5 separate regions of the Homo sapiens genome follow, and regions 2, 3, 4 and 5 are each reported to be linked to region 1. The links are microRNA targets in miRTarBase. Many come from high-throughput screens and were not tested one by one. Region 1 holds a microRNA gene; each other region holds the end of a gene's coding sequence.

What was found. Region 1 holds the annotated microRNA hsa-miR-4696 (UGCAAGACGGAUACUGUCAUCU, at 3,383-3,404, opposite strand). A microRNA usually pairs through its seed, bases 2 to 8, with sites in the 3' UTR of a target mRNA and lowers its output. Matches are read on the target gene's strand: a 7mer-m8 pairs with bases 2 to 8, a 7mer-A1 pairs with bases 2 to 7 and ends in A, and an 8mer does both.
Region 2: miRTarBase lists SLC25A43 as a target of hsa-miR-4696. Seed matches in the 3' UTR shown: 7mer-m8 at 4,012-4,018 and 7mer-m8 at 3,860-3,866.
Region 3: the mRNA of CRTC1 is a reported target of hsa-miR-4696. Seed matches in the 3' UTR shown: 8mer at 4,163-4,170 and 7mer-m8 at 4,511-4,517.
Region 4: the mRNA of TBXA2R is a reported target of hsa-miR-4696. Seed matches in the 3' UTR shown: 8mer at 4,744-4,751 and 7mer-m8 at 4,713-4,719.
Region 5: miRTarBase lists RPL32 as a target of hsa-miR-4696. Seed matches in the 3' UTR shown: 7mer-m8 at 2,807-2,813.

What each region holds. Positions count from the first base shown.
Region 1 is chr11:74,716,925-74,722,639 of GRCh38, forward strand. MIR4696 (microRNA 4696) reads right to left here and starts at 3,413; the gene lies at 3,344-3,413. It overlaps CHRDL2 (chordin like 2), which reads right to left. Exons shown (of 11, transcript NM_001278473.3): 2 at 1,796-1,908.
Region 2 is chrX:119,451,864-119,457,578 of GRCh38, reverse strand. SLC25A43 (solute carrier family 25 member 43) reads right to left here. Exons shown (of 5, transcript NM_145305.3): 4 at 5,436-5,570; 5 at 3,101-4,714. The coding sequence ends at 4,514. It also overlaps the pseudogene RNY3P16. Among named protein-coding and RNA genes, the nearest start is that of SLC25A5, 14 kb to the left of the region's middle. RefSeq lists a silencer at 919-1,213.
Region 3 is chr19:18,776,211-18,781,925 of GRCh38, forward strand. It overlaps CRTC1 (CREB regulated transcription coactivator 1), which reads left to right. Exons shown (of 14, transcript NM_015321.3): 14 at 961-5,715. The coding sequence ends at 1,172. Among named protein-coding and RNA genes, the nearest start is that of COMP, 12 kb to the right of the region's middle.
Region 4 is chr19:3,590,652-3,596,366 of GRCh38, forward strand. It overlaps TBXA2R (thromboxane A2 receptor), which reads right to left. Exons shown (of 3, transcript NM_001060.6): 3 at 3,856-5,282. The coding sequence ends at 5,037. It overlaps GIPC3 (GIPC PDZ domain containing family member 3), which reads left to right. Exons shown (of 6, transcript NM_133261.3): 6 at 1-2,890. Among named protein-coding and RNA genes, the nearest start is that of GIPC3, 8.0 kb to the left of the region's middle.
Region 5 is chr3:12,832,492-12,838,206 of GRCh38, reverse strand. It overlaps RPL32 (ribosomal protein L32), which reads left to right. Exons shown (of 4, transcript NM_000994.4): 4 at 1,984-3,722. The coding sequence ends at 2,113. It overlaps CAND2 (cullin associated and neddylation dissociated 2 (putative)), which reads right to left. Exons shown (of 15, transcript NM_001162499.2): 15 at 3,404-4,452. The coding sequence ends at 4,225. Among named protein-coding and RNA genes, the nearest start is that of SNORA7A, 5.1 kb to the left of the region's middle.

The DNA.
Region 1 (5,715 bases):
TCTACAAAAAATAACAAAAATTAGCTGGGCATGGTGGCACACACCTGTGGTCCCAGCTACTCAGGTGGCTGAGGTGGGAGGATTGTCTGAGCCTGGGAAGTCAAGGCTGCAGTGAGCTGAGATCGCACCACTGCACTCCAGCCTGGGTGCCAGAGCGAGACCCTGTCTCAAACAAACAAACAAACAAAAAAAAAAAACCATTCTCACTGCCGCGTGGAGGATGGATTTAGGGGGGGAAACAGGAAGACCTGTTAGGAGGCTTGTGTGGCAGCCCAGGAAAGAGATGACAGATGATGGTGGCTTGGATTAGGGGGAGCAGTGATGGTGGAGAGAAGTGGAGGGATTGAGGGTATATTTTGCAGATACCAGCAAAAGTCCTCTGGGTTGAGGAAACTGTATGTGAACTCTGTGAAAGGAGAAATGAATTAACTCCAATGGCTCAAAAAACTTGGACTTTGTCAACTGGACCACATGATATGTCTGGAATTTTCTGTTATGATTTCCTTTCTGTTCTCTGGCTATATTTCATAAAGTCCTTCTTGAAAAGGCTGATTGGCCTCAGATGTGCTAAGGCAAACCGAGGGGAGGCAGTCATGGTGGGGGTTGTGTCCCCATTTCTACTTGGGGCCAACACGGTAGAAGCAGTGGTGAGTCAGGAGGAAAGACCCCAGGAGGAGTGAGACCCCAGTGTCAAAGTCAGGAGGGGGGCTAGCCACCCTCTCCGCCACCCCACAGGATCTCCTCCAGAGCTCTGTCTGCTCCCACCCCAGAGGGTTCTGTTTTAACAAGGGAGACTCTTAGAGGCCTTCTGCATTCCTCTCTTGGCTCTGTGCAGGGAAAGAGTGGGGCTGGGAGGCTGGCTCGGGCTGGGAGCTAGCTACCCCTCCCTCCAAGCACCAACACCCAGACAAAGAAAGCTGGGGACATCCACACTGGGCTCCAGGCAGCTGAGCTAAAGCCAAGGGTTTTTCAGGCCTCCTAAGCCACTTCCTCCTCTTCCGCCCCTCCAATCTCATACCTTACTTGTGAATTCTGGACCACATGGGGGTCTCATTTATTCTACCCAGTTGATTTTACAAGGCCCTGTGGAGGTGCTGGATTGTCATGGGGTGCGATGGGGTGGGAGGAGATGGAAAACAAAAACATGGTCTCTACCCCAGGTGGCTCAGCCTTTGGCAGGGAATCATGCCAGGTGTGAGTGAGGGCCCAGCAAGTCCTAGCCTCAGAGGTTCAGTCTAGGAGGGGCAGTAACTATGTTGCCTGGTCAACAATGATCAGGAGAAAGGGGCAGAGAAACTTATGTGGGATCCCAGAAGAAGAAAATCCTTCCAGGTGGAGGTCATTTTCCCATTTGAGCAAATCCTTGAGGAACAAGTAGTTGGGCTAGTGGAGGTGGGGGAACACATCCTAAGGCAGGGCCAAAGTGGCTGGAGGAAATAGTACGTGAAAAGAAGGGAATGGGAGATAAGGTCAAAAAGGCTCTGTCTTGGGCTGCGTGGGAGGCAGGGAGGCTGGCACCAGCACGAGGTGGAAAGAAGGCTGGGATGTGAGATGGGAGACCAGGGCCCTCATCCCAACCCAGCCACTAATGTTTGTGTGACTTATCTTTGGGAGGTACACAGTAGCCATCTAATCCTATATATTGAGTAGTCAGTAGTGAAGTGGCTTGTCCCAAGTCTCTCAGCTGCCGCTGACAGCACAGTTCTAGAAGGCCTGGTCCTCCTTCTGGGGTGACTTCTCTGGAGGGTTCTCAGACATCCCTGACACAGGTGGTCAGGTGGCCAGAGGAACCTACCTCTGAGCAGGTACAGCGCAGGCAGTACATCAGGCCTTGTGGCTCCAAGTAGGGGTGCCAGCTCTCGCCGGGGGAGTATCTCTTCCCATGGAAAAGGCAGAACATGTCTGGGCCTGGCAAACCGACCAGTGCCATGTTAGTCCCAGGAGGCTCCAGCCCAAAGACCCTGTCTCATTTCTCCTTCTTTCTAGCTCTAAAAGAGATGTCATCTGGGCCACTCAGGCAAAAGAGAATCTGCTAGACAACTGGGCATGCTCTCCTAGGCAAGGGGCCAGAAGGTCTGAGTTTGAATCTCGGCTTTACCACACACTTACTGTGCAACACTGGGCATGCCACTGTCTCTGAGCCTTAACGCTTATCTCACAGGGCAGTTAGGGAATCAAGCAGTGAAATGCTGTACAGATTTATATCATGGTATCAGCGTTAATTATTATGATTAGACAAATGAGGCCCAGAGAGGGTAAGTTACACCTGAGGGCCACACAGCAAGTCAGTCACCAGGCAGCGATGACAGCACCAGTCTCCTGACTCAGTCCCACGCTCCTCTGCCCTCACAATCATGCTTGTTTCCTTTTTATTTGTCCCATTTGGCTTATTTAGTACATCACCTCACCCTTCCCTCCCTTCCCACCCCTCTCTCCTCTCCCATCCCCCTCCCCTGTACACACACACACACACACACACACACACACACACACACACACGTGTACACATTCTCTGGGTCCTGTAGCCCACCTTTTGAACAAAGTCCTCCTGGTGTGAAGATCACCAGGCACCTGTGTAGAGGAGGATTGGCAGGGATGGGGCCTGAGGCCATGGCTCTGGGAGCTTTCTTGCTTTCACACTGTACTATGTCCTTATATTTTGGTGAGCCGTGATGAGAAGGTTGTTAGGAAACTGACTTTCAAGTATCCTTAAAAATGGTCGTTGCTACTACTGTGATTTGTGATTGGCACACCAATGGACTTTTTTGCAATCGCACATCAGTTGTCAATATCTGGATGAATGCTTCTAAGAATTACTAAAATCGTTTGTTCCATGGGTTGGCTATCTCTCCTACAATCCTGCATTCCTGAAACCTCTGCCTTTCTCACCTCCCATAACCCACTGATCCACTCCTGCTCCCACCTCCTACCCACTCACCTCCAGCCCTGGGTCAGACCTCCCAGCCCAGCACTGCAGCCTTGTGCCCTGCCCCTCTGCCTCCCGCCCTATCCTCACCAACCCTCCTCTACGCAGGTACCTAGCGATCTTCACGCCAGCAGGGAAAAACACTCCATTGCCTGAGCTCTTTTCAGGAGGAACTGGGAGGCTCAGCACAAGCTAAGTGCCAGTAAAGGTTTGTTGAATTAAATGAGATTGAAATATGGAGAAGGGAACCAACATTATTGACTATCTTCTCTTTGCCGAACCCCTTATAGAAGTTAATTATCTCATTAACATTATTGTTTTGACCATTAAATTAGATAACGCTTGTAAAGTGTTTACCCAGTCCAGTTTCTGACCCTTAGTTGAATGCTATTATTATGATAATTGTGGTAACAATCACAAAGCCACTGCAAAATGGACATTGTCATCTTCTGGAATAGATGACAGTATCCGTCTTGCAGTGGCTTTGGACTGTTACCACAATTATGAGAAGGCTCACAGAGACTATGCCACTTGCCTAAAGTCCTCCGCTAGGATTTCAGCCCAGGACTCCCGCCTCCAAAGCAGAGCTCCTTTCTCTTCACCTCATCTCTCATCTCCTGTGGCTTTTTACACAATTCCAGGGCCTAAAGGCCTTCTTCTCTCTCTGCCCCACCAGCCACCATCCCCGACTCCCTAGCTTATTCTCTTAGTCCCCTGTTGGTCTAAAATGGAGAAGCTGCCTCTCATGCCTCCTTCTCATTTTCCAGAGTCAAGCGTCTTAGAAACATGGGTTCTTACACTTCCTAAATCACATTCTCTTAGACTTTGAAACAGAATCGCAGAGCATTGAAAGCAGTAATGAGTTGGGTGGGGTGAGCGGGGAGCTCACATTCAGTGCAGGAATTCCCTCTCAGCACTGGGGGCTGGGCTGGCGTGCAGCCCCTGCCTGACACACGCCTCCAGGAAACAGGAGCTCATGGGCCATTCCTAACCATCAGAAGGTTTTCTTTGTAAGGAGCTGGAGTTGGCCTCTCTCGGGTTCCTCATATTGCTCCTGCTCTGCCCTCTTGGGCCTCCTAGAACAAAGATTTGAGACTGCTGTCACGATGCCTTCAGTCTGTGCTTCGAGGGTCGCTGAGAGTAGGAACACATGGCTTAGTTCCCTCGCCATTCCCTTCCCAACTCCGCAAAGTGGAGGAGCGATTAAAGTTCGCCTCTCACATTCCCAGCAAGCCAGCAAGGCCCGGCTGGCCCGTATCAAATGAGCTGTGTTTATCTCTCAGCCTCTACTGGCAGAGAGGGTGGGACACGGGCCCAGCTGGGGTGCTGGTCAGAGCCAGCCCAACTCTCCAAGGAGTGAATAATGTCTTTCTTCCTCAGTCCCCTCCTCCCACCAGGGAGGGGGTGATTGCAACACTGCCACCACCTTAGGTCTCAGCCTGTTGCTGAAGAAGCCCTGTCCTCCCTTCCTTGGGGCAGCCCTGTAGCCCAGGTCTCTGTGCCAGTTGGCACCCCCTTCACCTCACCGCCTGCTCAGAGCATGAAGACAGAAAGAGTGTCTCAGCCAATGCCCAGGCAGGAGGCCCCTTCCCCCCACCAACAGACCTGGCAGAGGCTGAGAATGTGGGGGGCCTGGCAGGAGGCCTCCAGTGGCCACAATCCCCACCCCACCATACCCTAGAAGGTGACAGGCACAAGGAAGGGTGGCATGGCCTGGAGCTCTCTCTTCCTCAAGTGAGATGAGTGCCCAAGGCCATGCCAGAACCAAGCAGGAGGAAGAACTGCCAGACGGCGACAGGCCGCCTCAGTTCCTGCAGTGCTGGCACTAGCCCCAACCCTTGAACATGGCTGGTGAAAACAGTTTTAGTTCTTTAAGCCACAAGTTCACTGTGTGACATTCAGAGACTCATCCTCCTTTCTCTGAGCCTCAGTTTCCCATCTGCAAAATAAGGGGAGGGGGTAAGCTATGATCTTCAAAGATTTTCTGCATAGATACTTTATGAATCCATGATTTCAACATTTGAAGACTCCAAAATTCTAGGATTCTAAGGTTCAGGATTTTGAGAATTCCATGTTTCTAAGAACCTGTCTTTCCTTAGAACACAAAGCTTCTAGAATTGTCCAATGTTGTGGTTCTAAGATTCGATCATTCCAAGATTCTATGATTCTTGGATGTGTTGATGGTCTCATACATCTTAGGCTCTCAGAGGCTCCAAAGTGGGTTAGGATGAAGTTCAGGGAGCCAGTAGGACCAGTCCTGAGTGACACAGGTGTGTCACCTGAGTGTGAAGGAGGTAGAGTTTGTCTCATACCTCACTCCCTTCCCATACACTCCCTTTGGTCCTCTGTGGCGTTCCCACCTCTGCCCTGGCCTTGGACCTGCCCTGATTCCTCTCCCACCCCACCACCAAGTCTCATCCCACCTGTGCCCATGCATCCCTCCCCATCTCAGAGACCAAGCATGACTTTTCTCAGGGACCCTTTGGAGTCAGATCGGCTGGGGTTCAAATTGTGGATTTGGCTTTTATTTGCAGCCTGAATTTAGACAAGTTACCTAACCATTCTGGGCCTCTGTTTCCACATCTATTAAATGGAACTAATAACAATCTTTACCTCTCAGAGTTACTGTAGAATTAGGTCAGATAATATATGTAATATGCCTAGTGCCTGACATATATTATATGCTCAACTAAATAGGTTTAAAAAAAAACAGATCTGGGCACTGACCCCAGACTTCCTTAATAGTTTGTTTCCTGTGGTGTTTCTTTGACTCCCAGAGCTCTCTGTGG
Region 2 (5,715 bases), not on the chromosome of region 1:
TTCCCTCCAATCCATTCTCCACACAGCAACTGAGTAATCTTATAAAAATCAAAGTCAGATTATATCGCTTTTCTGCTTAAAAACCTTCAATGCCTCCCCACAGCATTTAGAATAAAATTTAACTTCTTGTTCTGGCCCACATGGCCACATAAGACCTGGCTGTCTCTCTCCAATCTCATCTCATCCCACTCTCTCACCACACTCTGGCTACCCTCGCCTCCTTTCTGTTCACCAAGGCTTTCCCACTGCCACACTTCTGTGCTTGTTCTTCCCTCTGCCAGGAATGCTCTTCTCCCTCGTTCTTTCTCTCCTTTCTTTCTTTCTCTTCTTTCCAGGAATGCTCTTCTCCCTCGTTCTTTCTCTCCTTTCTTTCTCTTCTTTCTTTCTTTCTTTCTTTCTTTCCTTCCTTTCTTTCTTTCTTTCTTTCTTTCTTTCTTTCTTTCTTTCTTTCTTTCTTTCTTTCTTTCTTCCTTTTTCTTTCTTTCTTTCTTTCTTTCTTTCTTTCTTTCTTTCTTTCTTTCTTTCTCTTTTCCTTTCTTTCCTTTTTTTTCTTTCTTTCCTTTCTTTCCTTTCTTTCTCTCTCTCTCTTTCTTTCCTTTCTGTCCTTTCTTTCTTTTTTTTGACGGAGTCTCGCTCTGTCACCCAGGCTGGAGTGCAGTGGTGCAATCTCGGCTCACTGCAACCTCCGCCTCCCGGGTTCAAGGGATTCTCCTGCCTCAGCCTCCTGAGTAGCTGGGATTACAGGTGTGTGCTACCAGGCCCAGCTAATTTTTGCGTTTTTAGTAGAGACGGGGTTTCACCATGTTGGCCAGGCTGGTGTCAAATTTCTGACCAAGTGATCCGCCTGCCTTGGCCTCCCAAAGTGCTGGGATTACAGGCGTGAGCCACCGCGCCCAGCCCTTCTTTTTTTCTTTTTTTTTTTAGGGCAAGTCAAGTGAAGCAGTGGGAGTGGGAAGGAACAAAGAAATCTGTAGCTGATTGTGGTCAATTACTTGTAAACACCACTGCACTTTGACCAGCCCTCCCTGGTTCTTTGCATAGTTGGCTCATTCTCATCCTTCTGGTCTCATCTCAAATGTCACCTGTCAGAGTGGCCTTCTCTGGCTCCCTGATTTAAAATATTCCCCTGTGACTTCAGCCGGGGAGACAGAGGTTGCAGTAAGCTGAAATCGCGCCACTGCACTCCAGCCTAGGCGACAGAGCGAGACCTTGTCTCAAAACAAAAACCAAAAATAAAATATTCCCCTTACCTCCACATAATTCTCTAATAAAGCACCCTCTATATAAGCACCTTCATAACATCACAGTCCATGATTACCTAAATTATTTATTAGTTTACTTGTTTATTGACTGCCACTCTCACTAGAGTGTAAGCTCCTTGAAGGCAAGGACCTTATCTGCCTTTTGTGCCACTGTGTCTGTAGTGCCTAGCAGTTATTGAATAAATGCACAAAGCCACTTTTCTTGCTCTGACCCACTTTTGCTTGCTTCCATCTCTGTGATGCTGCAATGCCCTGCCTTTAACCTGCAATGCCTTCCTATTCGTGACCAATACATATCCCTTAACTTCTTTCAAAACTTAGTTCAAGACTCATGGCTGGGTGCGGTGGGTCATGCCTGTAATCCCAGCACTTTGGGAGGCTGAGGCAGGTGGATCACCTGAGGTCACGAGTTCAAGACCAGCCTGGCCAACATGGTGAAACCCCGTCTCTACCAAGAAAATACAAACATTAGCTGGGCATGGTGGCAGGCGCCTGTAGTCCCAGCCACTCAGGAGGCTGAGGCACGAGAATCACTTGAACCAGGAGGTGGAGGTTGCAGTAAGCCAAGATTGCATCTCTGCACTCCAGGCTGGGCAACAGAACGAGACTCTGTTTCAAAAAAAAAAAAAAAAAAAGACTCACAACCTCCCCAAATCCCTGTTGATCACTAGTCTCTCTCCCATGTGATGATCCCTTTAGTTTTTTATTCACTAAGTTTGTATAGAGCTTCTTGGCAATCTTATGAACAGTTCATACTACATTATCATGCCTTTGCTTGTATTTGCTTTGTAATCATAGTCATTTCATATATGTAGGTATGATTTGTTCCTCAAGACCATAAATTCCTCCTGAGTCAACATTGCATCACACATCTTTATAATCCTTCTCAAGTACTTAGTCCAGTGTGGTGCTCACTGTCAGCCATAAAGCAGAAAGGCAGAACTCTCTCTTCATAATCCAAAGAAAATGAAATTAGCTGGAAGTTTATTTTAGAAACAGAACAAGAGTTTTAGAGTTCTTCTGAAATTAGAAAAATCAGGCGTATTATTTTCCCCACTTAATTTAATGAAGAAAAAATCAAAACTGCAGCTCAGAAAACATTTCTGTGCATGACAACTGCAAGAGTTTAGCTATCTATTTAATAATACTTGTGGAAGGGCAGGGTGTGGTGGCTCACACCTGTAATCCCAGCACTTTGGGAGGCAGAGGTGGGCAGATCACCTAAGGTCAGGAGTTCGAGACCAGCCTGGCCAACATGGTGAAACCCTGTCTCTACTACAAATACAAAAATTAGCCAGGCATGGTGGCAGGCGCCTGTAATCCCAGCTACTCGGGAGGCTGAAGCTGGAGAACTGCTCGAACCCGGGAGGAGGTTCCAGTGAGCTGAGATCACGCCATTGGACTCCAGCCTGGGTGACAATTTTTTTTTTCAAATTAAAAAAAAAATTACTTGTGGAAGAATACACAAGATATTATCATGAAATAATGTGAGGTTAGGATTTTATAGTTAAAAAAGTAAAAAATATTTTTGCAGCTTTCAGAACTGTTTGAAAAGTTGTCTGTTTCAAGGAAAATAAAGAGTAATAAACATGAACTATTCACTTTGGGTAAAGAATCTGCCACCCTCCAAACTCTAACAGATTGAGCTACAGATGAGATTTCCATGTGTGTGTGTGTTAACTGCCATTCTCCATAAAACAGAATGCCGCAGCAGTTGGAAAAGTGAATTATTTTGGTATACTTAAATAGGATAAGGCTTTGAGAGTTTACAGATTTGGCCAATATGTATTTAACCATAGTTTTATAACTCAGACTAGCAATAAATGACCAACACATCATTTTTTCTTTGGAAAATAAATTTAATCGGAAAAAATACTTGCAACATACCGAAAATCTCTCTCTATGTATGAGTGTATGTGTGTGTATAAATTAACAATTTTATGTTAGATATTAATGCATTTTTAAATGCATAGATAGGTGCTATTTGACAAGTATAGTTATATAAACTTTACATAGAATCTCTAAAGTGGAACAATCCTGAGATTTGATTTTTAGAAAGTTTGATACAGATGATTAGGTTAAAGTGTTTATAGTCAGTTACATTTTTTTGAGTATGTGTGTCAAATGTTCCATTTGATCCTTTCTAGGCAACTGGGACATCTTTGAGAATAACTTGACTAAATAACTTATTTTCAGAGTAGGCTTGCAAAGCAAGTTAAAAAGGCAGAGAATTTAGGCCACTGAACTGTACATGACTTCAATCAGAAGGTCTTTGGGGGGATAATTAAGCAGTCATGGTATAAACTGTCTTTCTGAAACACAAGATTTTAAGCCTGGGATGCTTCAAATTTCAAAAAAGAAGGATGATTCTACTACAATGGTGATAGCTTTTAAATGTTCGCTATTTTCATTTAGATTCTGATAAGGCATAATTTACACTGTGGTGTGTGCACTCAGATGTCAGCAAAAATTTGAGTTCAAAAAAGATTGTACTGGGGCAGGGTGCAGCGGCTCACACCTCTAATCCTAGCGCTTTGGGAGGCCAAGGCAGGAGGATTGCATGAGCCCAGGAGTTCAAGACCAGCCTGGGCAACATAGCAAGACCTCCCCAAAAAATTAGCTAGGTGTGGTGGTGTGCACCTATGGTCCCAACTCTCTGGAGGCTGAAGCAGGAGGATGTCTTGAGCCCAGTAGTTAAAGGCTGCAGTGAGCTATGATTGTGTCATTGTACTCCAGTCTGGGTGACAGAGCAAGACCCTGTCTCTAAAAACAAAACAAAACAACAGATTGTATTGGAAAGTCTCAGGTCAAACTGAGTGAAACTAGGCTGACGTTGGTTTGTGCAAGCTTTGCATTGACTACAAGTGACCCAGTGGCTGACCTCACAACGTGGTATCCACTCAGCCACTTCAATTACCTGTTGCTTTGAGATGTCATGGCAATGCCCTTTCTTTGGTGTCATGTTTCTATTCAGAGCGTAAATTGTACATTTTATCACTGCTAGACTCTGGTTATAAAATCTCGTGGAATGCCATCATGATACACTCTTGTTGGGAAACCTTCTCATAGTGCAGGTGTTCACAGGGACATCAGTTTGGAGATCTGAGGTGGTGCATGGCCAAACCATCTCATTTCCCAGAGCAGCAGATAGCAGTAGCTTCTCATCCCTCCTCAGGTGCACAGTTATGAGGCTACATTTATCTGTGATTGCAACATGCTGTCAGTCAGTGCACTTCTAGTTCCATTCCATTTTATAGAGTTGGTTTTTTAGGCTTCGGTTTTCTCGTTTTGAAGAACTTCTTTAATTCTCGTAATTCCTGGGGCTGCAAACTCTGATCGACTCCTGGGGTCAATTTATAGCTCAGTGGAGACAGAATGTAACCATTTTGATAAAGACAGATTCTCTTGCAGAACTCAAAGGTGCTAAACATAATTCCAAAATATGGAACTATCTGTTAAAACCAAAAATGAAAATCAAGTTAAGTTCTTAAAAAGAAAACATCAATGTGTCTGCAGTCAACTTGGATCAGGGTAAATTATCTTGTAAAGTGAGATAATGGCGGTGGCAATACAAATGGTAACTCTTTTTGGAATCAGGAAAGATGGCAAAAGGAAAGCTGGCTCAGTGTGGGTTGGGAGAGGAATGACAGTGATTGAAGGGCATGACCTGCCTGGGAGGCACTAGATCTGGGTCATATGCACGCAGACTATCTGATACTACCTGTCACTATATGCTGGCCTTGACTGGAATCATTTACATGCCAGCTAGTGCAAGGTTAGTCCAGAGTGCTTAATGTTTTTTGTTTTTGTTTTTTTTTTTTTTTGTCATGGAGTTCTTTGGGAATATGATGCACATATGCATATACACATACATTTTTGCATAGAATTTTAGGATGAGGGGTTAGGTTCCCATTAGGGGCCCATGAACCTCCACATTAAGTATCTCTGCACTAAATGCTCAGCTCCTCTGGAATGGGGTATAAGATACTCCACCACTGCACAGGTTCCCCTCTCTACGGGGCTGACAGACAGTGTGCATTCATGGGCCTTGTGCTACCCATTAGTGCTAGAGGGGGTTTTCCAAGCAAACTGTAGTAGGGGTTGGGGGTGACAAAGGAAGAGGGTAGAATTGGAAGAGGCAGGGGAGCAGCGGAGGCTGGTGGCTCTTCTCACCTTCAGTAAATTGGCTGTCAATCCATTCCAGAGCCCCAGGACCCCCTGGGCCTTCACTATCTGCCGGAAGCAGTCCACTGCTCCTGAGAAATGGACATCTACTCCTCCACTGTGTGGGAGGTAGGGGCTCTGAGCCTGACAGGAAACAGAAGCTGGGATGAGGTGATTGAAACATTAGGAAATAAATGTCCTAGTGGAAGGAGCCAGGGTCTCAAGTCTACATTCTGGATGCTGGGTTCCTGGCCAAGATGATGGCAAAGAATGGCTGCTGTGGGGTTCT
Region 3 (5,715 bases), not on the chromosome of region 1:
TCTGGTGAGCCCAGCCTGGGCAGCCAGCTAACAGGTCAGGGCCGTGATGCACCGTGACAACCACGCCCAAGCAGTCTGAGCACGGCGCCTGGGCTCCTGGGGACAAGCCAGCCCCGTCCTGCATGGCACATATCAGGAAGACCCGGCTCCATCTAGCACAGAACCCAGACCCTGTCTCCCTGCTGAAGAAGATGATTCCCTTATGAGTCAGGGCTGCTGGATTGAGGGTGATGCGCCCCCTGGCAGTCCTCACTGGCCTCTTCCAGGCTGGAAGTGTCCGTATTTAGTGCTCCCCCACTGTGGCCTGGGCTCTGAGTGCAGAATCCAGCACCTCCTTCCCACCCCTCGGGTGTAGGCAGCAGTTGACGAGAAATTCAAGGGTGGACGCGCCAGCCTCAGACTCAGGAGAAGAATCAGAATCTGACCCCCGCAATGGCCTCAAGAGCCCAGAAAGACAGGGCGTTTCAGCCCCATTTCTCAGACCTGGAACCTGAGTGTAGGTGGAAGCCTAGGTTTGAACCCGGGTCTTTGTGGGGGAACTGAGGATTCCCTCCAGCCCTAGCAGCAGCTGGGTCCCCACAGTCACTCCAGCCTGCTTCTCAGTGACTCGTGCCGAGCAGCCCTCATGGCTGAGGGAGCCGGGGAGGTCCCTGCCCTCGCCAGGTCATGCTGACGTGCATCAGTGACACAGCCCTTGGCCCGAGGCTTCTCCTTGGTGCTCCTGACATCTGGAGCTGACATCTAGGGCCAGACTGGTCTCTGGGGTCCAGGCACTGTAGGGTGCTGAGCAGCATCTCATGTGCTGGCCCCTCCCCCAGTCATGACAGCTGGAATGTCCCCAGACATTGCCAGCATACCCAGGGGACAGAGTCGCCCGGCGGGCATGCCTGGTCCGACACATGGATGCGAGCGATGGAGCCAGGGCTAAGCAGTGCCTTTTGTCCCCACCCCATCCCCCAGTGACAGGAGAGTCCCCCCCCAGCCTCTCTAAAGAACTGACCAGCTCTCTGGCCGGGGTCGGCGACGTCAGCTTCGACTCCGACAGCCAGTTTCCCCTGGACGAACTCAAGATCGACCCCCTGACCCTCGACGGACTGCACATGCTCAACGACCCCGACATGGTTCTGGCCGACCCAGCCACCGAGGACACCTTCCGGATGGACCGCCTGTGAGCGGGCACGCCGGCACCCTGCCGCTCAGCCGTCCCGACGGCGCCTCCCCAGCCCGGGGACGGCCGTGCTCCGTCCCTCGCCAACGGCCGAGCTTGTGATTCTGAGCTTGCAATGCCGCCAAGCGCCCCCCGCCAGCCCGCCCCCGGTTGTCCACCTCCCGCGAAGCCCAATCGCGAGGCCGCGAGCCGGGCCGTCCACCCACCCGCCCGCCCAGGGCTGGGCTGGGATCGGAGGCCGTGAGCCTCCCGCCCCTGCAGACCCTCCCTGCACTGGCTCCCTCGCCCCCAGCCCCGGGGCCTGAGCCGTCCCCTGTAAGATGCGGGAAGTGTCAGCTCCCGGCGTGGCGGGCAGGCTCAGGGGAGGGGCGCGCATGGTCCGCCAGGGCTGTGGGCCGTGGCGCATTTTCCGACTGTTTGTCCAGCTCTCACTGCCTTCCTTGGTTCCCGGTCCCCCAGCCCATCCGCCATCCCCAGCCCGTGGTCAGGTAGAGAGTGAGCCCCACGCCGCCCCAGGGAGGAGGCGCCAGAGCGCGGGGCAGACGCAAAGTGAAATAAACACTATTTTGACGGCTGTCTTTTATATTTCTGAGCACACACAGAGCCCTGGCGTCCACCGGGGCAGGCGCAAAGTGGACAGAGCATGCAGGGCGGCGGACCCCCCCACGACCCTCCTCGCCCTGTCTCCATCCCCTCGAAGCCCTGCCTCACCGCAGGCAGGCCCATCGGTGGCCACCTTTGCCGGGAAGTGACCGGAAGGCCCCGTGAGGGGTCGAACGCGGAGGCAGGGGTTACCTCTTGGGGCTTTACAATCCGTGGCCCCTCCTGTCCTGCACTGTGGTCACCGGTCCTGTCATAGATGCTGTTAATTTAAGGTACAGGCAGAGGTGGCCAGGGGAGTTTCATTGTGGTTTTTTTTTCCTTTTAGTTTCTAGTTACATTTTGGTTGTAGATGACTCGCTTAATCTTTTAAGCCAACACTTGCCTGAGAGCATGTTTTTATTTCAGAAATCCAACTTTACCTATTTTTTAAGCTAACTGGAAATGGAGGCCATGCGCCCCAAAGCAGCCCGCCACCCACCTGAGTGTAAGAAGTGAGTCCGGCTTTTGGGTTTCACCCCAAGTTATCTCAAAACAAAAGGGCTGGTCAGGCTGGGCAGGGCCTTGTCAGGAGCTCACGGTAGGCAGAGGTGCCTCTGCCAGGGCCACAGAACAGACTTCCGGGAAGGGGCCTTGGCTTTTATTGAGGGTCTCTCAAAGACCCAGCCTGCCAGCCTCTCCCAGAGGTGCCTGCTAGTCCTTAGAGTGTGTGTGTGAAGATGCCATGACCAGTGGCAGCTGAGACCTCTCTGCCCCAAGAGTGTGGGGGACTGGCAGGGAGCGAGGGTCCCCGAGACGAGGACCACGGTCCTCCCTGAGAACCTGGGTGGAACTGGCATTTCATCCCCTCTCCACCCTACCCTCTGGCTCCTAGCCCACACCCCCTCTCTTGGGCAGCGTGGTCTGCTGGCTGCCCCTTCTTGGCAGCTCAGGGTCGTGGCAGGTGGACTTGGAGACACACAGCAGTGTGTGTTTTAGTGGCAGGTTTCAGGAGCACCTCTAAGACCAGGGTGACAGGGTACTTGGGAGCTGTCCTGGACCCTCCCCATACCACGGGCCCTGCAAGGGAGGCATCAGGGCTGGCTTTGTTTTCTGCTGTTCTTGGAATAGGAACTGCTGTTCTGATCCCCCCAAAACTGCATTGCGGCTCTCGCTCGCTCCTGCCTGCCGGGACAGCGCCTTCTGCTGAGTCCGTTTATTTGTAGTGTCATGGCTGCTGCTTTCACTGGGGTCCTGGGCACCCTGGCTTCTGTCCTCAGAGCTGGGTTTGATCCTAGCAACCATCCCTTCCTCTCTTTGCCCGGCAATGCCTTTGGCATGTGTCTGAGCAGCCAAGTGGCCACTCATAGGAGAAGGCTCCCTGGTCACGTTGCTCCTGCTGCCGTCTTGTTCCAAGGTGCGGGGGGGACACTGTTGGTCTGTCCAGGTCAAGGTCCCTTTCTCTTACCATGACAGAGGCTGGGGGCAGACAGCGGGGACTTTTTTTTTTTTTTAAGAAAAACTACATGTACATAGGAGAGTTTCATTACCATTAGACTTGTATGTAGGACTTAAAAAAAAATGGCCTTAATAAAATTACAAGCAACCCGCCTGGATGCGGTTTTCAAAAGAAGGCATTGAGGACCATGCTAGGAAACCTCATACCCCATCCGTCCAACCTCCGGCGGGCGCCACTGCTTGTCCTCTGGTCTTCGGTGTGGACAGATAGGAGAGGAGGGATGCCCACCTCGGAGCATCCCAGGCCCGTGGCCCATTTTCAGCATCCTGAAGCCAGATTCACAGTGACATTGTGTTAACGTGACGACCTTGGTCCATTATGGAGTTCTTTTTCCAATAAGAACCTGGTGGACCGAGGTCCGAGCTTGCCAGGGACAGTGGGGCCCACGCGAGTACCCGGGGCCCAGCCAGGAGCCAGCAGCCAGGCGTCCCTGTGTTCCAGAAGGATTCACGCCCCTCCTGGACCTGGGCGGGCCTCCCAGGGGGTCTGTATCACGGCCTTTTGTGTGTGCGTACGTGTGGTTTTTTTAAATATCACTACTACATATTCTTGAATTGCCAAGACTTTCTGAAACAAGACAGCTTAAGGGAATCAGCCTTTTGCTTTGTGATGTGAAAATACTGTGATTTGACGAGCCGCTTCCTGAGGGGCAGGCCCACGTGGGGAGGTTGCGCCGTGTACATAGACCCGCCGTCTGTGTCCTTGGTCAGGCCCGGATGCTTGGTCTACACTGGGTTAGAGGCTGCTCTCCCCACGCACCCATGTGCTCATGGCTTCTGCAGACCCTCTGCTGGGTACATCGGTCCCCTACGGCGAAGTTCAGCCAGGGCTCTCCCTCCTGAGAGCATGGCGTCCCCACCTTCCTGTTTCGCCGACGTCACTACCCAGGGTGGCAAGTCTTGCAGGCAGAGGGTGTAGCCCAAGTTCAGCCTCTCTCTGTGTCCTCCAGAGAAGAGGGTTCTTTGCCCTCATCAGGGCCCTGCTTGTGGGTTTTCGGCTCTGGGGAGGAGAGTGTTGGCATCAGTGTGTTTGGCCTGATTTCTTCAGGGGGCCAAGCTCCCGGGAGGACCCCTAGCCAGGAGGGCCCCCCATGTCCATCCATCCCTCCTGCTGGGGCTTGGATGTCAGGCTTGGGGGCTGTGAGCTGGGACCTCGCCTGAGCCCGGTCAGGTGGGACAGGAGCCTGCCAGAAGCCCATGGGGGGCCAGGCCGGGTGGCTTCTATTTTATTTTTTTAGAGATGGGGTCTTGCTGTGTTGCCCAGGCTGGTCTCGGACTCCTGGGCTCAAGCAGTCCTCCCTCCTCGGCCTCCCAAAGTTCTGGGGCTACAGGTGTGAGCCACTTCTGCCCAGCATCCCAGGCCTGAACAGCCTTGGCAGGACCCGTCCCTAGAGGGGGCTCTGGTGCCTCCCTTAGGTGGGCCTTGAGCTGGTTTTTAACCAAACATCCTTCCAAACTCGGGCTGCGACCTGCTTCCTGAGTTTTCTGTATTTCCAAGGAGCCCTCCGACCAGGGAGAGGCTGGTGGAGTAAGGTCCAGCGGTATTCGGGGGTCCTCTGTCACCTCGCCCTGAAAACAGCAGCTCCCATCACCTTCACTGGGTCCCGATGGAGCCGTCTCAGAGGCCGAGGGGCCCTCTGTGTGGGGGTGGGACGCAGGGGCTCTCAGAGCAAGGGCCACAAAGCCGATGGCACAGATGTGCCCCTGGGCCTGGCCCGTCACCCACATGTGGTGCCCTGGGCCAGGGCGTGCGGGCGCCAGAGCCTTCCCTACACAGCCTAAGAGCAGGGGCAAGACTCGGCCCCTCACTCACCCTGGGAGGCCTGCCTGGGCTACATGGACACCTGGGTCTCTTTCTACCCCCATTCACCATGGACCAGGGGCCTCCATTTCCTGGGGGCTCTTGCGGCATGTGATTTGGGGGTCCCTGGGACATTCTCCCGTCAGCTCCACCTGAGCCAAGTGTCCTGTTCCCTGCGGCCCTTGGCCTTCCAGGGTCCTGGCCAGGCAGGGGTCAGGCACCCCATACTCTTCCGTGTGGCACAGGTGTCCACCCACCCCCACTGGCCACAGACACCATTCTCCCCCTGGGAGCAGGAGGTGGAGTAAGTTGTACCCCCAGGCCTGGGTGCTGGGGAGTTCCTGAGGGCATGGGTGGGGCAGGAGTGAGTGCCTCGTGATCCCAGCCTCAGTTTCTCTCTTGTCACTTTCTCAAACCTGCAGGTCTCAGGGCCCCGGGCTCCTCCTGGGCAGGATGGGGGGCAGGGGCTGGGCCTTGGGGTGGTGCTGGCTCTGATGATTCCAGAGCCTGTATCCACCTTCTGGGCTCCTGGCCAGCACCCCACCCCCAGGAGCCAGGGACAGGTGGCATGTGTTGGGGTCGGGGGATGGCCCCCATCTCGAAGTGTTCTGGAATTTGGGGGCAACCCTTGCCCAGCCCAGCCATCAAG
Region 4 (5,715 bases), not on the chromosome of region 1:
GAGACCGAGCCCAGCTCTAGAACTCAGATGGGCTCTGAGACCGAGCCCAGCTCTAAAACTCAGATGGGCTCTGAGACCATGCCCAGCTCTAGAACTCAGATGGGCTCTGAGACCGAGCCCAGCTCTAGAACTCAGATGGGCTCTGAGACCGAGCCCAGCTCTAGAACTCAGATGGGCTCTGAGACCATGCCCAGCTCTAGAACTCAGATGGGCTCCGAGACCAAGCCCAGCTCTAGAACCCAGATGAGCTCTGAGACCATGCCCAGCTCTAGAACTCAGATGAGCTCTGAGACAGAGCCCAGTATTGAGACCAAGCCCTGTTCTAGAGTCCAGGCCAGCTCCGAGACCAAGCCCAGCTCTAGAACCCAGATAAGCTCTGAAACCAAGCCCAGCATAGAGACCAAGCCGTGTTCTAGAATTCAGGCCACATCTGAAGCCAAGCCCAGCTCTAGAACTCAGGTCAGCCCTGAGACCAAGCCCAGCTCTAGAACCCAGATAAGCTCTGAAACCAATCCCAGCATTGAGACCAAGCCCTGTTCTAGAACTCAGGCCACCTCTGAGGCCAAACCCAGCTCTAGAACCCAGATAAGATCTGAGACCAAGCCCTGCTCTGAAGCCCAGGCCAGCTCTGAGACGAAGCACATCTCTAGAATCCAGCTGAGCCCTGACAACAAGCCAAACTCTGGAACCCAGACACATTTTAAGACCCAGACCAGCTTGGAGACCAATCCCAGTTCCAGAATCCAGGCTAGCTCGGAGACCAAGCCCTGCTGGAAAACTCAAGCTGACTCTGGAACTCTGGACAGCTCCACGATGCAGCCACACCTGGACACTCGGTCTAGCTCCGGAACCCCAGTTAATTTTGGAACCCATGTGAGATTCATGAAGCAGCCCAGCTCTGGAACCCCAGTCAGCTCAGGATTCAGAGACAGCTCCCAAATCAAATCCTATTCAAGAACTCAGACCAGCTCAGAAACCCAGGTCCACACGGCTGCCCAGTCCAGATCCCAACCCCAGTTGCATCCAAGTGCCCATCCCCATCCTGCAGCCCAGTCCAGCTCCAGTGATGATTCCAGCTCTGAGACTGAGCCCAGCTCTAGAACCTCGCCTAGTGCTACAACCAGGCCCAACTCCAGGATTCAGACCAGCTCTGGAACCCCATCCATCTTGGAAGCAAGACCCAGCTCCAGCACACAGCTTGGTGCCAAGCCCCACTCTCCTTGCACAATGCAGCTCAGCTCTAGAATGCAGTTTACTTCCAGGACCCAGACCAATTTCAAGGCCTGGCCAAGCTCCAGAGCTCAATCCAGCCCAAGCACCGCACCCAGCTCTGGAACTCAGCTCAGTTCTGGAGCACAGGCTGGTTCTGAAATCCCAGCCAGCTCCAAAACACAGACAGCAGCTGAGACCCAGCCAAGTTCCAGAATCCAGCTAAGCTCTGGAGTCCAATCTAGTCCTGGGACCCAGGCCATCGCAGCAATAGAATTAAGCTCCACAGCCCTGTCTAGTTCCGACAGCAGGTCCAGCTCCAGGACCCAGCGCTGCCCAGGAGCTCGACCAGCCTCTGGGACTCAATTCGCCTCTAAAACCCTGCCAGGTTCTAGATACCAGCTCCAGACCACAGCCCCAGACAGCTCTGGTATTCAACTGGACTTTGGGAAGCAGAGCAGTTCTGAAAGTCAGCTTAGCTTTGGAACTCAGCCCAGCTCTGGGACCCAGATAAGCTCAAGAATTCAAGCCAGCTCTGGAAGTCAGCTTAGTTCGGGAACCCAGCTGATTTCCGGAGCCCAACCCAGCTCCAGAACTCAGACTAGTTCTGGAAACCAGCTCAGCTCCGGGACCCAGACCACTGCAAGAATTCAGCTCAGCCCTGGAGCTCATCTTAGCTCCAGAACCCAGTCCAGTCCTGAGACCAGGCTCAGCTCTGAGGCTCAGTCCAGCTCTGGAACCCAGTTCAGTTCTGGGATTCAGTTTGGCTCTGAAACCCAGACCGGCTCAAGAATTCAGCCCGACTCTGGAGCCCAACTTAGTTCCAGAACCCAGTCCAGCTCTGAGACCGGGCTCAGCTCTGAAACCCAGACCGGCTCAAGAATTCAGCCCAGCCCTGGAGCCCACCTTAGTTCTGGAACCCAGCCTGTTTCTGGAACCCAATCCAGTTCCAGAACTCACACCAGTTCAAGAATCTGGCTGAGCCCTGGAAATGGAATCTGCCCACAGACCCCTGGCCTTGACCCTAGAATCCAGCTTGAGGCCCCTGCCCCAGCCCAACCTCAGCCCCCAGGCCCATCCCCCAGAGACCCCACCCCAGCCCCTAGCAAAGACCCCCAGCCTCTGCCTCAGCCCCATGATCAGGTATGTGGCATCCAGGCCAGCCTTGGCCCCATCCCAGGCTTACCCCAAGCCTCCTACCTGGCCCCACAGTCACAGGTCTCCTCAACCCCCCAGAAGCCAGCCGTCTCTCCCAAGCCCCGGGTGGGACCCCAGAAGTCCACCCCACCCACCATATCTGTCACTCCTAGTCCTGCCCCTAGGGCAGCCCTCCTGAGTTCCCAGCTGTCTGAGTCCCCAGCTTTGGCGCCAGCCCTTTGCCCCACTCTGGGGGAGCCAGGAGCCCGCCCTTACCGCGGGGGGCCGTAGCTTGGCTGTGACTTAGCCCTGGTTCATGTGGTTCTCGTCCTCTCCTGTCCCTTCCAGCCTGGGGCCCCCAGAAGCAGCAAGTGACCTTATTTCTCCAGCAGGCGGTGGTAGGGAGTGTGCGGTGGTGAAAACAGGGGCTTCACCGGTCCTGGCTCAGATCCAGGTCCTTGGAGGGAAAAGGAGGGCAGGAGACGGGTTGCACCGCATGTACCCTGAGGGCTCATGGTGAATAAAGGCACCTTCCATCTCTGCAGCCTGGTGTGTCATTTTGGGGGAAGTTTGGGGGAATGCAGAGATGTGGGGCTGGGGGGCTGGCTGAAACTGTGGCAACACTGAATACCTCTTGAGCACCTACTGTGTACCAGGCACTTCATTAAGCACCGCACAGGCATGAGCTTACGTGCCTGCAGGCGACAGGTGCTCCACGAAGACCCAGCCACTGGTCCTTTCTACCAATATTTATTGAGCACGTACTATGTGCAAGGTGCTGTACAGAACACTGTGGTGTTTGAAAGGTTGCTGGGTGAACAAGTGAACAGTGGAGGAAACGGGCATCACTCCACGCTTTTGCATCTCTCTCTCTCTTTCTCTGTTTTATTTATTTACTTATTTACAGATGGAGTCTTACTCTGTCGCCCAGGCTGGAGTGCAGTGGCATGATCTCGGCTCACTGCAACCTCTGCCTCCTGGGTTCAACCAATTCTCCTGCCTCAGCCTTCTGAGTAGCTGGCATTACAGGCGCCCGCCACCATGCCTGGCTAATTTTTTGTTTGTTTGTTTGTTTGTTTGTTTGTTTTTTGAGACAGAGTTTTGCTCTTGTTGCCCAGGCTGGAGTGCAATGACGTGATCTCGGCTCACTGCAACCTCCACCTCCCGGGTTCAAGCTATTCTCTTGCTTCAGCCTCCCGCGTAGCTGGGATTACAGACATGCGCCACCACGCCCGGCTAATTTTTTTGTGTATTTTTAGTAGAGACGGGGTTTCTCCATGTTGGTCAGGCTGGTCTCTAACTCCCGACCTCAGGTGATCTGCCCGTCTCGACCTCCCAAAGTGCTGAGACTACAGGCGTGAGCCACCGCGCCCTGCAATTTTTGTATTTTTAGTAGAGACAGGGGTTCACCATGTTGGCCAGGCTGGTCTCGAACTTCTGGCCTCAAGTGACCCTCCCGCTTCGGCCTCCCAAAATGCTGGGATTACAGGCATGAACAATCGCGCCCGGCCCATTTATATCTACTTTTAATGACACACAGATTCAAAGGTGGTTTGATTGCAGGTTCCAGGGCTAACCTGTAGCCCTCCCATTACAGGCTGCTGGAAGAATTCTAGGTGGTACCACCCATCAAGTGATTAGGAAACACTCAAGAAACAAGGTGGGGGAGGAACCGAATCCTCTATGTCCCTCCCCATCCTTCCCAGCCCTGCCCTCGTCTGCTCCGGGTGAGGCCCAATGCACAAACTCCAGAGATTGAAAACTTCTGGACCCAAAGGAAAATAAAACCAAAGGCAGAGATATATTTTGGCAAGAAAAGGGGGTGCCCCCGTTCACATTCAATCCTTTCTGGACAGAGCCTTCCCTGTTGGAGGTTCAAAAGGAAGCAACTGTACCCCAGCAAGTAGGTCAAATTCAGGGTCAAAGAGCATGCAAGGCCGGGCGCAGTGGCTTACGCCTGTAATCCCAGCTGCTCGGGAGGCTGAGGCACGAGAATCGCTTGAACCCGGGAGGCGGAGGTTGCAGTGAGCCGAGATCGTGCCACTGTACTCCAGGCTGGGCCACAGAGTGAGACTCCGTCTAAAAAAAAAAAAAAAAATGGCCAGGTGTGGTGGTTCATGCCTGTGATCCCAGCACTTTGGGAGGCTGAGGCTGGTGAATCACCTGAGGTCAGGAGTTCAAGACCAGCCTGGCCAACACGGTGAAACCCCGTCTCTACTAAAAATACAAAAATTAGCCGGGCGTGGTGGCGCGCGCCTATAGTCCCAGCTACTCAGGAGGCTGAGGCAGGAGAATCGCTTGAACCCGGGAGGTGGAGGTTGCAGTGAGCTGAGATTGCGCCACTGCACTCCAGCCTGGGGGACAGAGCAAGACTCCGTCTAAAAAAAAAAATAGCAATGCAAGACCCTCTTCCAATGTCTGCATGCCCTTCCTGGGGTTGGGAGGGACGCAGAGAAGGGGTGGGAGCTCTGGATGGGAAAAAGGGGCCGAGGAAGGGAGAGTGCTTGGTAAAAGGATCAGGGAGGAGTTGGGGGTCCCCGGGTTGGATTGGGGTCAACCCAAAACCCTGCTGCTGATGCCCACTGTCCATCCAGCACCCCCAGCCCCTGAATCCTCAGAACAGGCAGATGGGCTGTCCGAGGGGCCAAGGGCTCCGCGGAAAGGCGCGGGAGGGGCGCTCTGTCCACTTCCTACTGCAGCCCGGAGCGCTGCGTGAGCTGGGGCTGGAGGGACAGCGACCTGGGCCGGGTGCTGAGGCGAGGCTGGAGACGCCGGAGCACGGCGCGGCGGAACAGGATATACACCCAGGGGTCCAGGATCTGGTTCCAGGTGGCCACGCGCAAGTAGATGAGCAGCTCCTTCTCCGTGGTGCGGGACAGCTGCCCGGCGGGGCTCATGGCAGGCGGGTTTCGCAGCACTGTCTGGGCGATGAAGACCTGCAAAGGGGAGAGCTGTCAGCCTGGGCCCCCGCCTCCAGCCCCGCCCGCCCCGGTCCCTGCCCGGGGTCCCTTGAGATCCAGGGTCCACTCCGTTTTTTAATTTTATTTTTGAGACAGGGTCTCACTCTGTCGTCCAGGCTGGAGTGCAGTGGTGCGATCTCAGCTCATTGCAACCTCTGCCTCCCGGGTTCAAGCAATTCTCCTCCCTCAGCCTTCCAAGTAGCTGGGATTACAGGTGGCTGCCACCACACCTGGCTAATTTTTGTATTTTTCGTAGAGATGGGGGTTTCACCATGTTGGCCAGGCTGGTCTCGAACTCCTGACCTCAGGTGATCCACCAGCCTCAGCCTCCCAGAGTGCTGGAATTACAGGAGTGAGCCACTGCGCCCGGCCAGTGTCCACTCTGTTACTGCATTGCTGGGTGACCTCA
Region 5 (5,715 bases), not on the chromosome of region 1:
TTGAACTCATGACCTTAAGCGGTCTGCCTGCCTTAGCCTCCCAAAATGCTGGGATTACAGGCATGAGCTACTATGCCTGGCCTGGTTTGATTTTAGAGATAGACAGGCTCTGTGTTGCCCTGGCTACAGTGCAGTGGCTGTTCACAGCTGTGATCATGGCACACCGCAGCCCCAAACTCAAGGTGGGCTCAAGCTGTCTTCCTATCTCAGCCTTCCTGGTAGCTAGGACCACAGGCACACTCCACCACACCCAGCTAGTTCTAGGTGTTTTGAGTAAGTTAGACACTTGGTGAGCTTTGTGTATAAAAGACTCAGTGACCTGCTTAGATTAAAACTAGGGCAGTGGAATGAAAAATTCTCATGGGAAGTGACAGTTTATTTTCTTCACTTACTGGTAAATGAAAGCCAAAAAGCTGAATTTTCCTAAGTAAACTAGAAAGAACATGGAGTGTGTGTGACTAACTAGGATGTTTGTGTTTACGTTTACAAAGATAACTTTCACCTACAGTGGTTGTAGATACAAGTAATAAAAATGAACAAGACCAGTATTCTAACGTGGTTACCTTCCAAGATTGGAAATTTAACCAGGCGTTGAAATGCTGAAAATTTCTGTTAGAAAAGATGGGCGAAGGAATTAATGGTGGATACTGAAACCACAGTTGGCTGTATGAGTTGAACTGTAACAGGCAATACCTGTTGTATGGCCAACATGATTACTCAGTTGCAGTGCACATGTTGGCTGGTTGGCATATGCTCTGTAAGCGCAGCTTGGCAGTCTTTAAGATCCATAGAAATACTCTTTGACGTTTGATCTCTAAGTTCCATTTCTGGGCATTTGTCCTTAAGGAATGGAAAAGCAGGCAAACTAAAGCTAGTCATTGCAGCAATAACCCACTGGAAACAACTGAAAATATAATGAGAGAATTGTAGAGTGCTGGATAAAATGTTGTGGGTCCACTCAAAATGATTCGAGTGTTGTAGTGTGGAAAATGCCCAAGCCAGGGGGGACACATTTAAAATGGTGGGTACACTCTGATTGTGATTATCAAATATATAGATGGACAAGGACAGGAGGGTTTTTTGAAAAGTAAAGACAGATGAGAAGTGTAATATAACCTAAGTCTTTAAAACGTAGAAACATTTAAAAATACAATTGCTTTGAATTTGAGTGGACTCATATAAAACAAGAATTGTCTGGATTTGCTGTCTTGCTGTTAAGGCAGGGTTCTTGAAAAGAGCTGTGTGTCCACTGCCTCAATCACTCCTCACAGTCCTGCTGCTTCTCTCTTTGCTGAAAATGCTTTAGGGGTGGAATGTCTGTTCTTAACCACTGTGGGTGGCTTCATAAATCACCTCCTTACTGAAGTGTGCTTGTTAGGCCTATTGGTTATCAAATGGGGCACAGTGTAGCTGCCTCTTAAAAAGTTGTGAGGAATGAGTTAGAACTGGATCTGAAGTCCTCAGGTAATAGGCATGGCTATGACTGGGTGACTTTAAGCATTGTTGCTTCTCAACTTGCTTTGTATCCTCAGCAGTCAAACCAGGTGCTCTTGGCTCCATTCAGACTCTTGGGTTCTGCTCTTGACCATTTTGCAAAGAGTTCTGAACCTTCATGGGCAAGGTCAAGCACCCTGTGACTGGGGGAGAACCTTTGAACCTGGAGTGTGGGCCTGGGTTCGCCCCGGATCCCTGTCCATTGCTTGCTGTGGGCCTTGGTTTCTTTATCTGTAAAATGGAGGTAATGCCTGGATTACAAGGCTGCTATAAGGATGAGAGGGGACAATGAGGGTACTTTTTAATGAAAGCATTCTTGTCACCACCAGGGAACCATAGTCAGGATTTGGGGGCATGTAGGTGTCATTCCACAGCCACTTACCAAGCAGCCCTCTCTTAGCTTGGTGCTGGGACTCATTGCCTCTCCAATGGAATTTTCCAAGTGTGTTGAGGGCTGTCTTGCTCCTTACCTACTTGATTCTCTTGCAGATCTTACTGTGCCGAGATCGCTCACAATGTTTCCTCCAAGAACCGCAAAGCCATCGTGGAAAGAGCTGCCCAACTGGCCATCAGAGTCACCAACCCCAATGCCAGGCTGCGCAGTGAAGAAAATGAGTAGGCAGCTCATGTGCACGTTTTCTGTTTAAATAAATGTAAAAACTGCCATCTGGCATCTTCCTTCCTTGATTTTAAGTCTTCAGCTTCTTGGCCAACTTAGTTTGCCACAGAGATTGTTCTTTTGCTTAAGCCCCTTTGGAATCTCCCATTTGGAGGGGATTTGTAAAGGACACTCAGTCCTTGAACAGGGGAATGTGGCCTCAAGTGCACAGACTAGCCTTAGTCATCTCCAGTTGAGGCTGGGTATGAGGGGTACAGACTTGGCCCTCACACCAGGTAGGTTCTGAGACACTTGAAGAAGCTTGTGGCTCCCAAGCCACAAGTAGTCATTCTTAGCCTTGCTTTTGTAAAGTTAGGTGACAAGTTATTCCATGTGATGCTTGTGAGAATTGAGAAAATATGCATGGAAATATCCAGATGAATTTCTTACACAGATTCTTACGGGATGCCTAAATTGCATCCTGTAACTTCTGTCCAAAAAGAACAGGATGATGTACAAATTGCTCTTCCAGGTAATCCACCACGGTTAACTGGAAAAGCACTTTCAGTCTCCTATAACCCTCCCACCAGCTGCTGCTTCAGGTATAATGTTACAGCAGTTTGCCAAGGCGGGGACCTAACTGGTGACAATTGAGCCTCTTGACTGGTACTCAGAATTTAGTGACACGTGGTCCTGATTTTTTTTGGAGACGGGGTCTTGCTCTCACCCAGGCTGGGAGTGCAGTGGCACACTGACTACAGCCTTGACCTCCCCAGGCTCAGGTGATCTTCCCACCTCAGCCTTCCAAGTAGCTGGGACTACAGATGCACACCTCCAAACCTGGGTAGTTTTTGAAGTTTTTTTGTAGAGGTGGTCTAGCCATGTTGCCTAGGCTCCCGAACTCCTGAGCTCAAGCAATCCTGCTTCAGCCTCCCAAAGTACTGGGATTACAGGCATCTTCTGTAGTATATAGGTCATGAGGGATATGGGATGTGGTACTTATGAGACAGAAATGCTTACAGGATGTTTTTCTGTAACCATCCTGGTCAACTTAGCAGAAATGCTGCGCTGGGTATAATAAAGCTTTTCTACTTCTAGTCTAGACAGGAATCTTACAGATTGTCTCCTGTTCAAAACCTAGTCATAAATATTTATAATGCAAACTGGTCATTTTTGGGATTTTGTTTTTGAGACTCATTCTGTCACCCCGGCTGGAGTGCAGTGGCTTGATCTTGGCTCCCTGCAACTTCTGCCTCCTGGGTTCAGGCGATTCGATTAACAATTGGAGACGAGTCGTGCAGAGGAAAGAAGTAACTTAGAATCTAATCTTTATTAACCTGGGATATCACAGAAAATACTTGGGCCTGCCACTTGTATTTCTTTGTCCTCAATACTGAACACTAGACACATTTGAAACCTTCCTCAGAAGGAAACAAACCAACTGGTTATGCCTGGGTGGTGGCATGGAAGATGCCCATTGTTGCCCAATTTGCTAATAAGTATTTTGAAATTAGAAATGAAACATGAGGTCCAAGCCTGTCCAGTTCCCTACCCAACCCATTCCTCCTCCCTGGAAAAAAGAAACCCGTATCATCTTCCAAATTTCTGATTCATCACTGCCACTTAAAAATGAACCGTTTTGAATTTTAAAATGTGAATAACTCAAGTATCTTTTCTTTTGAGATGCCCGGCCTGAGCACTAACTTCAGGCATTGCTGAATGCAGTGAAGAAACCAGAGTGGTGTCTGCTGCCTCCTGATCTTTTACAGCTGACAGCACAGCCTATTTCTAAATACTACTAGTTTGTGAGGCAGAGACACCCTCTGAAGGAACCAGACAGACTATGGAGGGGTACAGTGTGAAGTCACTGGAAAACTTCCTCACCCTATTTCTTTGGATGACTGTCCTGAGTTAAGGAAGGGGCCCAACTGTTGGCAGCCTCACAGCTTGGGCTGGGGGCCTTTGAGTTGGGTCCCTGGAGAAGGCACTGTAAGCCCTGACCAGGAGCGACAGGGCCCCCAGTGAGATGGTGGAAGGGCAAAAGTAGAGACCTGCGATGGTGGGATGGGGAGGCCTCGGACTTGGGTGGGCTCCTTTCTCTTAAGCGAGGGCCCACCTTGGTGCTGAGGGGACTAGCTGAGCTCCATTGAGTCTGTGCTGGGGGCTGAAGCGGAATCCTTCTGGATGCTTTCAAAGAGGGCAGCAAGTTCAGGGTTGGATCTGATTTGGGAAGAGAAGTCGGCCATGATGGGGCTTTTCCCCACCTCGGGGATGGTCAGCAGGGCAGCCACTGCCCTCATTGCAGAGCGCTTCAGTTCATCTTGCTTTTCAAACTCCTGCTTCACAGAACCAGCTTTGACCTAAAGTAGGAAACAGCAGAAGCAGCCATCCTTTATTGAGCCTGGCCCACACCACTGCCTCCTCACTGGTCTTTGGCTTCCTCTCTGCCCCATCATCTTCCCCAACATAAATCCCTGCTGCGAGGTCTCCTGAGGCTTCTGTCTCACCAGCTATTTCCTAACTCCACCTCTGGGCTTTTGCACTGGCTAGTTTCCCCACAGAGGTTCTTTGCCATTCAAATCAGCTTGAGTACAGCCTGAGGGGCCTCTGAGCAGCCAATCTGAAGTGCTCGCTTTTTGTTAATTGACAGTGGCAAGTACTGTGTTCCCATACTTACCTCCTACAGACTGCAGGGATCCAGCCTATATTTGCTGTGCTTAAAACCAGCTCTTAGCACCATATGACTAGACTGAATGAATGGATCACTGCGATGGTCTTCTAGCAGCCTCCTCCCCATACTCAAGTCCCTGCCCCGCAATCAGTTTTGCAGATGCAGCCGGAGTGTAAGCACCCCAAACTACCTCCTGCAGTTTCTGTTTCCTCTTCCCCCACCATCTCCTACCTAGGCAGAGGAGCTCAGTAATTCCTCCACTGCTTATGGACTAAAGTTCAAGTTCCTTATTATGCTGGGCTCTTCCTAAAGAATTCAATGCAGTGGGTAACAGCTTGGCATTGGAGTTGCAGAGTCCTGTGTTCAAATGGCTCTGCCCCCAAGAGCTGTGACTTCAGGTAACTACATCTTTGAGCCTCATTTCCCCATCTATAAGTAAGAGCTGCCTCGTCGTAAGAGTTGCCAAGAGGATTAAACGACACAAGTCCACACTCCCTTCTCTGAAACCCCTGGAGCCAGATGTGCTTTGGAATCCAAGACATTTTGGGTTTTAGAAAGGTAATACTGTGCAGATAACATTCCCGAGGGGTTTTGTACAATACCCTGTAATCAAATACATGAATACTCTACTACATGTATGAGTAATGTGAGTAGTACAGGTGTCCCTCAGTATCCATGGGAGTTTGGTTCCAGGATCCCAGGGGATGCCAAAATCCTCAGATGATCAAGTCCCTTATATAAAAGTGGTACATTGGTAAGAATTAAAGATCATAGCCTCATGCCACTTCAAGTCAAGTTGTGTGACAAACAGGTTCCTAAAAAGCTTTTGGTTGTCAGAGCTTGGTAGATTTCAGGGTCATGGGTAAGGACTGTGGGTGTGGATTTACCCATGCTCATCCCAATGCCCAACAGACAGCATCCTCCGCGTGGCCAGATGAGTGGCTCTTGTGGA